2 linked regions of the Homo sapiens genome follow. The protein of the gene in region 1 interacts with the protein of each later gene in a pairwise test. Each region holds a gene or a part of one and is shown on either strand. Other genes may lie near its edges. The genes, in order: BLID and PAX2.

Region 1 (3,197 bases):
GGGCTCAGTTCTCACTGTGGGTAGGTATGGGTCAGGGTAGTGGAAAGAAAGCAGAGAAGGGGACACTAGAATAGCTTAAAGTAAAAGCTCTGAAACACCTTTTCCATTTCCTTTTCCTTTTTTCCCCACAGATTTAGTTCTACTCACTCTAATAACAGAGTTCATAAAAGATTACTGGAATTTCTATTTCTTTCAGTTCCACAGGTTTTTTTTTTTGTAAAGGGAAAGAAAGGTTAGACTTATTTACAACACAATGACAATCTCTGATTCTTCACTTTAAGCAAATAAAGACGCCTAGTGAAATAAATGGATTGTGTTATTTAAAATTGAAAGCTTATGTGAACCACCACTCAGAAACATGCTTAAAAAATACAGAAAGAAAATGAAAACCCTGTGACTACACAAGATTATTCTGATGCCAAATGCTGAGTGTACAACTAAGTAGAGTAATTGTTAATAATATGACAAGTACCTACTTCCAATGTACAAATGAAATACACTCAAAACTGCAAAGGACAGTGGCACTGTACGCTGCCCTAAGGTTTACCATCACATAGCTTTTTGTTTTTTCATGAATTTGCAAGATTTGTTTTAATTAAATGCCATTTACTTTTAACTAGCCAGTTTATCCTTTTTAAAAATTTTATTGTTTCTCTGCACAATTTGAACCAAATTTGGAAAAGTTATGGGTAAAAGTGGGTAGAAAAGACTGTTAAGAATTGGGTCTTATTGAAATCAAGTTTCCTTCTGTGTTGTGCAGCCTGAATAATGGGCGAAATCTGTCCTAATATCTTGCTGCATCTGTCCTAACTCACTCCTTTTACAGGGCCTCAGCAGAGGAATTGCATAACAATGTAACTTGTATCCTGGTTAAATAGGAAGGTCTCTGAAGCACATGTCCAGGAACATTCCGCTTCATGGCAGAGGAGCCAAGATTGTACCTTTTAAGAGAAAGCACTGTTTCCTTAGGCAACATAGGTTCTTTGTTGGAACCCAAGAGCGCCTCCAGTGGCAGGCGTGCTTTTGCCTCTGGATAAATGGAACTGCCAGAGGCTCGCTCTATCCATCCTGTGTAGAGCACACACTCAGATTCTAGGATCTCAAAGAAATGTATTTCCTGGCCCTCTATAGGCAACAAAGTCACCATAATTTGAAGCTATTATGGAAGAAAGTCCAAAATTTAACTTCCATTCGCTTTATTCAGCAAGTTTTTATAAGGCAGATCTCATATGGACTATGCTTTGCATAAGCACGGTGTTAGATGGGAAGAAAAAAGTGGTGGGATCCTTCCTCCTCTTCCTTTCTTCCCAGCTCCTGCTATTCATGGAATTTCCCTTGATTTCAAGTGGCTACTCACCAAAATCCTCAACTGAAAACAGCTTCCAAGGGGTCATGTACTTATTCAATTCTCTTCTCTCTTTTCTCCAAACACAACATCATCTGACCAAGGTTTGCATGCATAAGCATTGCTAATTAACGATAAGTCTCCACGATGTCCTCCTCTCAGTAAGTTTGACACACAGACCTCAGCGAAGCTGTATGTACTGCCTAAAAGTAGGAAAGATCTCCACGTTGATTTCTGAATTGTAAAAGGCAGGGATATGTTTTGGACTTCTTGTCCCTTACTGTGAACAGACCTAAGAGTACTTACTTTATTTTTTAGAAAGAACCCGGAGCTGCTGATGTCTGAGGGAGTCGTTTCAACAGAGACTAGAATATCGAGAGAGAAAATTGATCCAGCTCTCTTGTCTGGTGCTTATAAAACATGAAAGTATCACCCTCGCCATGGCAGACCACAGGGAATGATCAGTGTGAATTGTTAAGTCCTCTTCTCAGTGATGCTTGCAAGCAATTTCCCTGGGGAAGCAACAAGTTCCTGACCACAGTGTTGTACACAAATAAATAAACAAAATGCTATTACTTTTTGTTCTTCACATTGGGAAAAGTTCAGAAACATCTTGTTTCAATTGATGGGCTGGAATTACAGAAACATTTTAATTTTGTCTTTCCTTGCTAGTTCTGTGCCTGAGATGTATTGGTAAAATGGAACATGAGTCATATTTCTAATTGGGAAAAGCCTGGTAATCATGGGCAACCCAGATCTGGGTGACTTACAGAGTATTTTTGTGTTGAGAGAGAAAAGACACTAAAAGTAGAAGTTTCTTACTTAGCAGCAGCAGAGAGGCTATAAGATTGAATCTGGTGTTTCACATGGCCTGTATCATGGTATAATGAGAAGGAATGTGTCTTGCACAAATTAGCCTATAGACCTTTCTAATCAGGACCAATATGTGACATATACAAAGGCAAGATCAGCTGTAAGGAAGGATTCACTCCTTTACCACCAAGCCATGGAGACTGCTTGAGTCATCATGGCCTTGGTCTCTTGATTTCCCTTATGTTATTTGAGTAGAAACTCAGGCACCAATGATGCCCCCAGTTAACCATAACCATAATGGTAGCATCCAATACCATTTTTAAAAAAGTCAGGGTTGTAGACAAAAGACTGATGTAGACCAGTGGAGAAGACAAGAGGGAGTTATGCAGCCTACTCTGAGAGCAAAGTCTGGTTTGGATCTTCTCTGCTACTTTTGTACATTTCATGCTAGAGGCAGAACAAGTATCCAGGGAACACTTTGGAACTTTCCTAAATTTACAGAGGGGCCTGTAACATTCAATTAGGGGGAACACAGAATGTTCTACTCTAGCAAAATTTATAGGTAGTATAAGAAATTCCATCAAGTGTCTTGTGGAAAACTGAATGCATAAAAGTAAGGATGTGGATAATGGGATCATTCAATATAGATTTCAAACCAAAGTCCGCTGCTTAATAACTCTGAACTTGGGCAGAGTACTTAACCTTACTGAACATCAGATTCTTTATTTGTAAAATGGGGACCATAATATCTTCTTTGCTCAATTATTTGGGGGATTAATGAGGGAAGGAATATAAATTATCACAAGATCTGGTATATAGTAAGAACTTTGCAATGTTTTTTTCCTCTCTTTATTGATGAATGCTTTCCAGATTTCTATTTGGCCTCTTCTCTTTGAGTTTATAGAATACTAATTTTCTGTACTTTGTGGCAAATCTATTCAATTTAACAGTTTTTAAAATTTATTATAATGTGAGACATGGAATATGAAGAATAAATAATGCATACCATTTTTATAAAAGAGACTCATAATCTACTGAG
Region 2 (3,821 bases), on another chromosome or scaffold:
AGTAGCACCAAGTTTCTCCTTGGGCCAGAGGGAAGCTAGTCTGTGTGCGTTGGGGACAGAGGAGGAGTGTTAGCAGGTGTTCTAGTAGGCCTGGGTCACGTCTTTGAGAGGCCCTAAGCATGGCTCAAAGAATGAGGAGGATGGAGAAAGGATGAGAGATACAGAGTGGGTGAGACAGAGGCTGAGCAATCAAGAGAGAAAGGCCAAGAGGAAAGAGGCCATGAGGAAGGAGGAAGACAGAACAGAGCCAGAGCTACACCTAAGAAGAAGAGAGAAGAGAGGGAAGGGCAGAGGGAGAAAAGAAGAGGAGCCAAGGGGAGAAGACAGAGGACAATGTTAAGAACAAGATGGAATGTTAAACAAAGATGGAATAAGAAAGTTGATATAAAAGAAAGAGGGCACAGGTAGGGAGACAGAATCAGATAAAAACAAAAGATGTTGGAGAATGAGGGAGAGGGAAGCAGGAGGAGGAGAAGAAGAAAAAGAAGAAGAAATGCTAGAAGAAAAACACTTAAGAGAGAGGAGAGGAGGGGAGAGGATAGGGACTGACTAAAGCAGGGCAGAGGGAGGTGACACAAGTGGGAGGCAGAGAACAGTCCTAGAGAACCAGTATCTCTCAGGAAGACCCTATGTGGACAGGAGCTCAGGTGAGAGGAGTTGGCAAATAGGTTGGGCTCTGGACCTCAAGCGGGCAGGCAGTTCCCAGGGGTGGAGCTGCGTTTCCTGCCTTTCTCTAGGTGGGATCTGGTTTCCTCCCCTTCCCTGAGCCCTCTTACCAATGGTGTGGCCAGGGGCGGTCACTCCTGTCCCAGCCCCATCCGGCGTTGGGTGGAAAGGCTGCTGAACTTTGGTCCGGATGATTCTGCAACAGCGTCACAACAGCATCACACATCAAATGCCCACTCCTATCCCGGCCAATTCCAGCCCAGCCCTGCAAAGGGGCTCTCTCCCAAGTTCCTCAGCGATTTCCTCATCCATCTGCTCCCTGTGTCCCTGCCCTCACTGACTGCTGCAAGGCACAGGGTTTTCCTTCTGTTGGCTCCGCAGATCCAACGTAATGCAGCTCTGGGTGAATGCAGCCTGCCTTATGTCCTGCTATGTGCATCACCCAAATTATTGTTTGATTTTTGGTAGCAAAGATCAGGGCAGAGACCCAGTGAGCACAGCATCCTTTCTTTTTCTGCAGGGTGAGGACTGCCCTAGTGGCTTGTTGTCCACCTTTCTCTCCTCAACCACACACGCATCTCTTCCTGGTACCAGGACCTCCTGGGTTTTGAGATCATTTTGGAGCTGGCTTTCCTACTTGGGACTGTGTCACAGTCCTTCAGAGTTGAGAGGATGAGATTTCCCCATATCCTGAAAGAATGAGAAGTAGCCAGGGAGGGGCTGGGTCACAGGTGACCCTTTCTTTTGTCCCCAGGACTCCAACACAGCACACAGTCCCTTTGCCAGATGTCAGGCTGAACAATCTCTTCTTGAGCCCACTTACTGCCCTCAAACAAGTCAGAGCCCTGTTCCTATATGGCTGGCTGGTTTGCTGGCCTCCTTTTCTGAGGTTCTTACTTGGATTGCAGCGTCTTTGCCAGCCTGGTTGAAAGGTCTGGTGCCCTCCCTGTACATCCTGGGGAGAAGGGGCCAAATCAAACATTCCAGGAGCCTGCTTTTCAGGGATCTGAAAAACCGAGGGCTCAATGATGCCAAAGACCAGTCCCAGGGCCAAGACGGAGGAATGCTCCCCCTACCCACTGGTCAAATGAGGGGCCTTTGGAAGCCACTTTTCTGATAGCGTTCCTTGTCCCCACAGAGAGGCATGTGAGCCAAGCTCACCTCAACCAGCCAGGTGAGTCACAAGCCATGAGCAAGTCAGCTCTAAAAGCTTTTCCTGAACACTTGCAGGCAGTTGGGATAAGGCCCCTAGCTCACAGTGCTGGATATGAAGGTGGGGAGGGGAGACTTAATCCCCAAAAAAGCTCAGTTACCCGAGGGAATCAGGTAGTTAGTGCTGGAAACTTGGAGGAGAGGAACCATTCCCCTTGCAGGAGAGGGAACTGCGGAAGAAGTCGCTGAACAGAGGGAAATTGATGTAGATCTTCAAAGCCAAGTAGGGCTGAAATCAGAGGCACAGAGGATGGCGGAAAGGACACTGGGCTGCATGGCAGGGGCCCTGAGTCCTGCTTCTGATTTTGCATTTAAGAAGCCACATAGCCTTGGTCTCACCTCTCAACTTCTCTGGGCCTCAGTTTCTTCAGCTTTAAATGAAGGGGTTGGACTACAGGATCTCCACTGTCTCTTTCCCCAGTAAAAAATAACTTGATCCTAAGATGAACAAAGAAGTAGAGGGGAGGGCATCACAAGCTGGTGGAAGCGGAAGCCACGCGAGCCTGCTGCCTTCTGGGTTAATGCCCAGAGTGGTCAGCCAGAATGAGTGGAGACAGGCAAGGGACTAAGAGGAAACAAGAATGAAAACTTGGATGTGATGAGAACCATCACCATTTTCCACTTACTGAACATCTACTATGTGCCAATATTATACACAATTTATATGACATATATATTACTGTTAATTCGCACAACCACCTCCAAAGTAGAGACTATTATCCTCATTTTGCAAATTGAAAACCAAAGCTGAGACAAGTTTAAGTAGCTCACTCAAGATCACACTACTGGCTGGGTGCAGTGGCTCACGCCTGTAATCCCAGCACTTTGGGAGGCCAAGGCGGGTGGACCACCTGAGGTCAGGAGTTTGAGACCAGCCTGGCCAACACGGTGAAATCTCGACTCTACTAAAAGTACAAAAATTAGCCAGGCATGGTGGCAGATACCTGTAATCTTAGCTATTCAGGCAGCTGAGGCAGGAGAATTGCTTGAACCCGGGAGGCGGAGGTTGCAGTGAGCCAAGATCAAGCCACTGTACTCCAGTCTGGGCAATAGAGTGAGACTCCATCTCAAAAAAAAAAAAAAGGCCAGATGCGGTGGCTCATGCCTGTAATCTCAGCACTTTGGGAGGCCGACGCAGGCAGATCACGAGGTCAGGAGTTTGAGACCAACCTGACCAACATGGTGAAACCCCAACTCTACTAAAAATACAAAATTAGCCAGGTGTGGTGGTATGCACCTGTAATCCCAGCTACTCAGGAGGCTGAGGCAGGAGAATCGCTTGAACCCAGGAGGCGGAGGTTGCAGTGAGCTGAGATTGTGCCTCTGCACTCCAGCCTAGGCGACAGAGTAAGACTCCGTCTCAAAAAAAAAAAAAAAAAAAAAATCACAGTACCAATTAGGGAAGACTCAGAATGCAGCCTCTAAAATCTATGCTTTTTGTTACTTTGTCATCCTGCCCCCAACATGTAGGAACCAGGTTTAGAGGGCCTTAAGCCATGAGTGATTTCTAAACTAGGGGGGATCTCTACAAACAGATCCCAGTAAAGCAACATACATATACATGAGGCATGAGGCGATAGGGAGCTGGTCTCAGGAAAGAAAGGGAAGAATTTGCAAGACAAGAGGAAGGCAGAATGGTCAGAGTTTGGCAACCAACTGGAGTCAACCATGGTTTTACAAACTCAGATTTGTGTAACTGGAAGCTTGGTGGAGTTTACATCAGCAGGTCAGGAATAAGGCTATAGGGAGGTGACTGGTTTTGGAGGGAAGTGGTGATGTTGGTCCTAGATGTGCAGCATTTGAGGTGAAAGAGGAGCGTCCAGGGGCAATGCCCCTGCATCAGCAGGCACACAGAGGTATGGATTTAGGAGACTGTCAGGGACCGGGGAAAGGAGTGTTTAAAAGACAAGAGGCCTAAGGAGTGGATACTGGAGGACATTTAT

What was found.
Region 2: the proteins of BLID (region 1) and PAX2 interact in a two-hybrid assay, tested with the Homo sapiens proteins (one large-scale study listed by BioGRID and IntAct).

Annotation. Positions count from the first base shown.
Region 1 is NC_000011.10:122,114,776-122,117,972, forward strand, and holds BLID (BH3-like motif-containing cell death inducer), read right to left. Parts: upstream 1,441-3,197; 5' UTR 1,148-1,440; coding exon 821-1,147; 3' UTR 565-820; downstream 1-564. UniProt on the Homo sapiens protein: Functions as a proapoptotic molecule through the caspase-dependent mitochondrial pathway of cell death.
Region 2 is NC_000010.11:100,776,539-100,780,359, reverse strand, and holds part of PAX2 (paired box protein Pax-2), read right to left. Parts: intron 863-3,821; coding exon 777-862; intron 1-776. UniProt on the Homo sapiens protein: Transcription factor that may have a role in kidney cell differentiation. Has a critical role in the development of the urogenital tract, the eyes, and the CNS.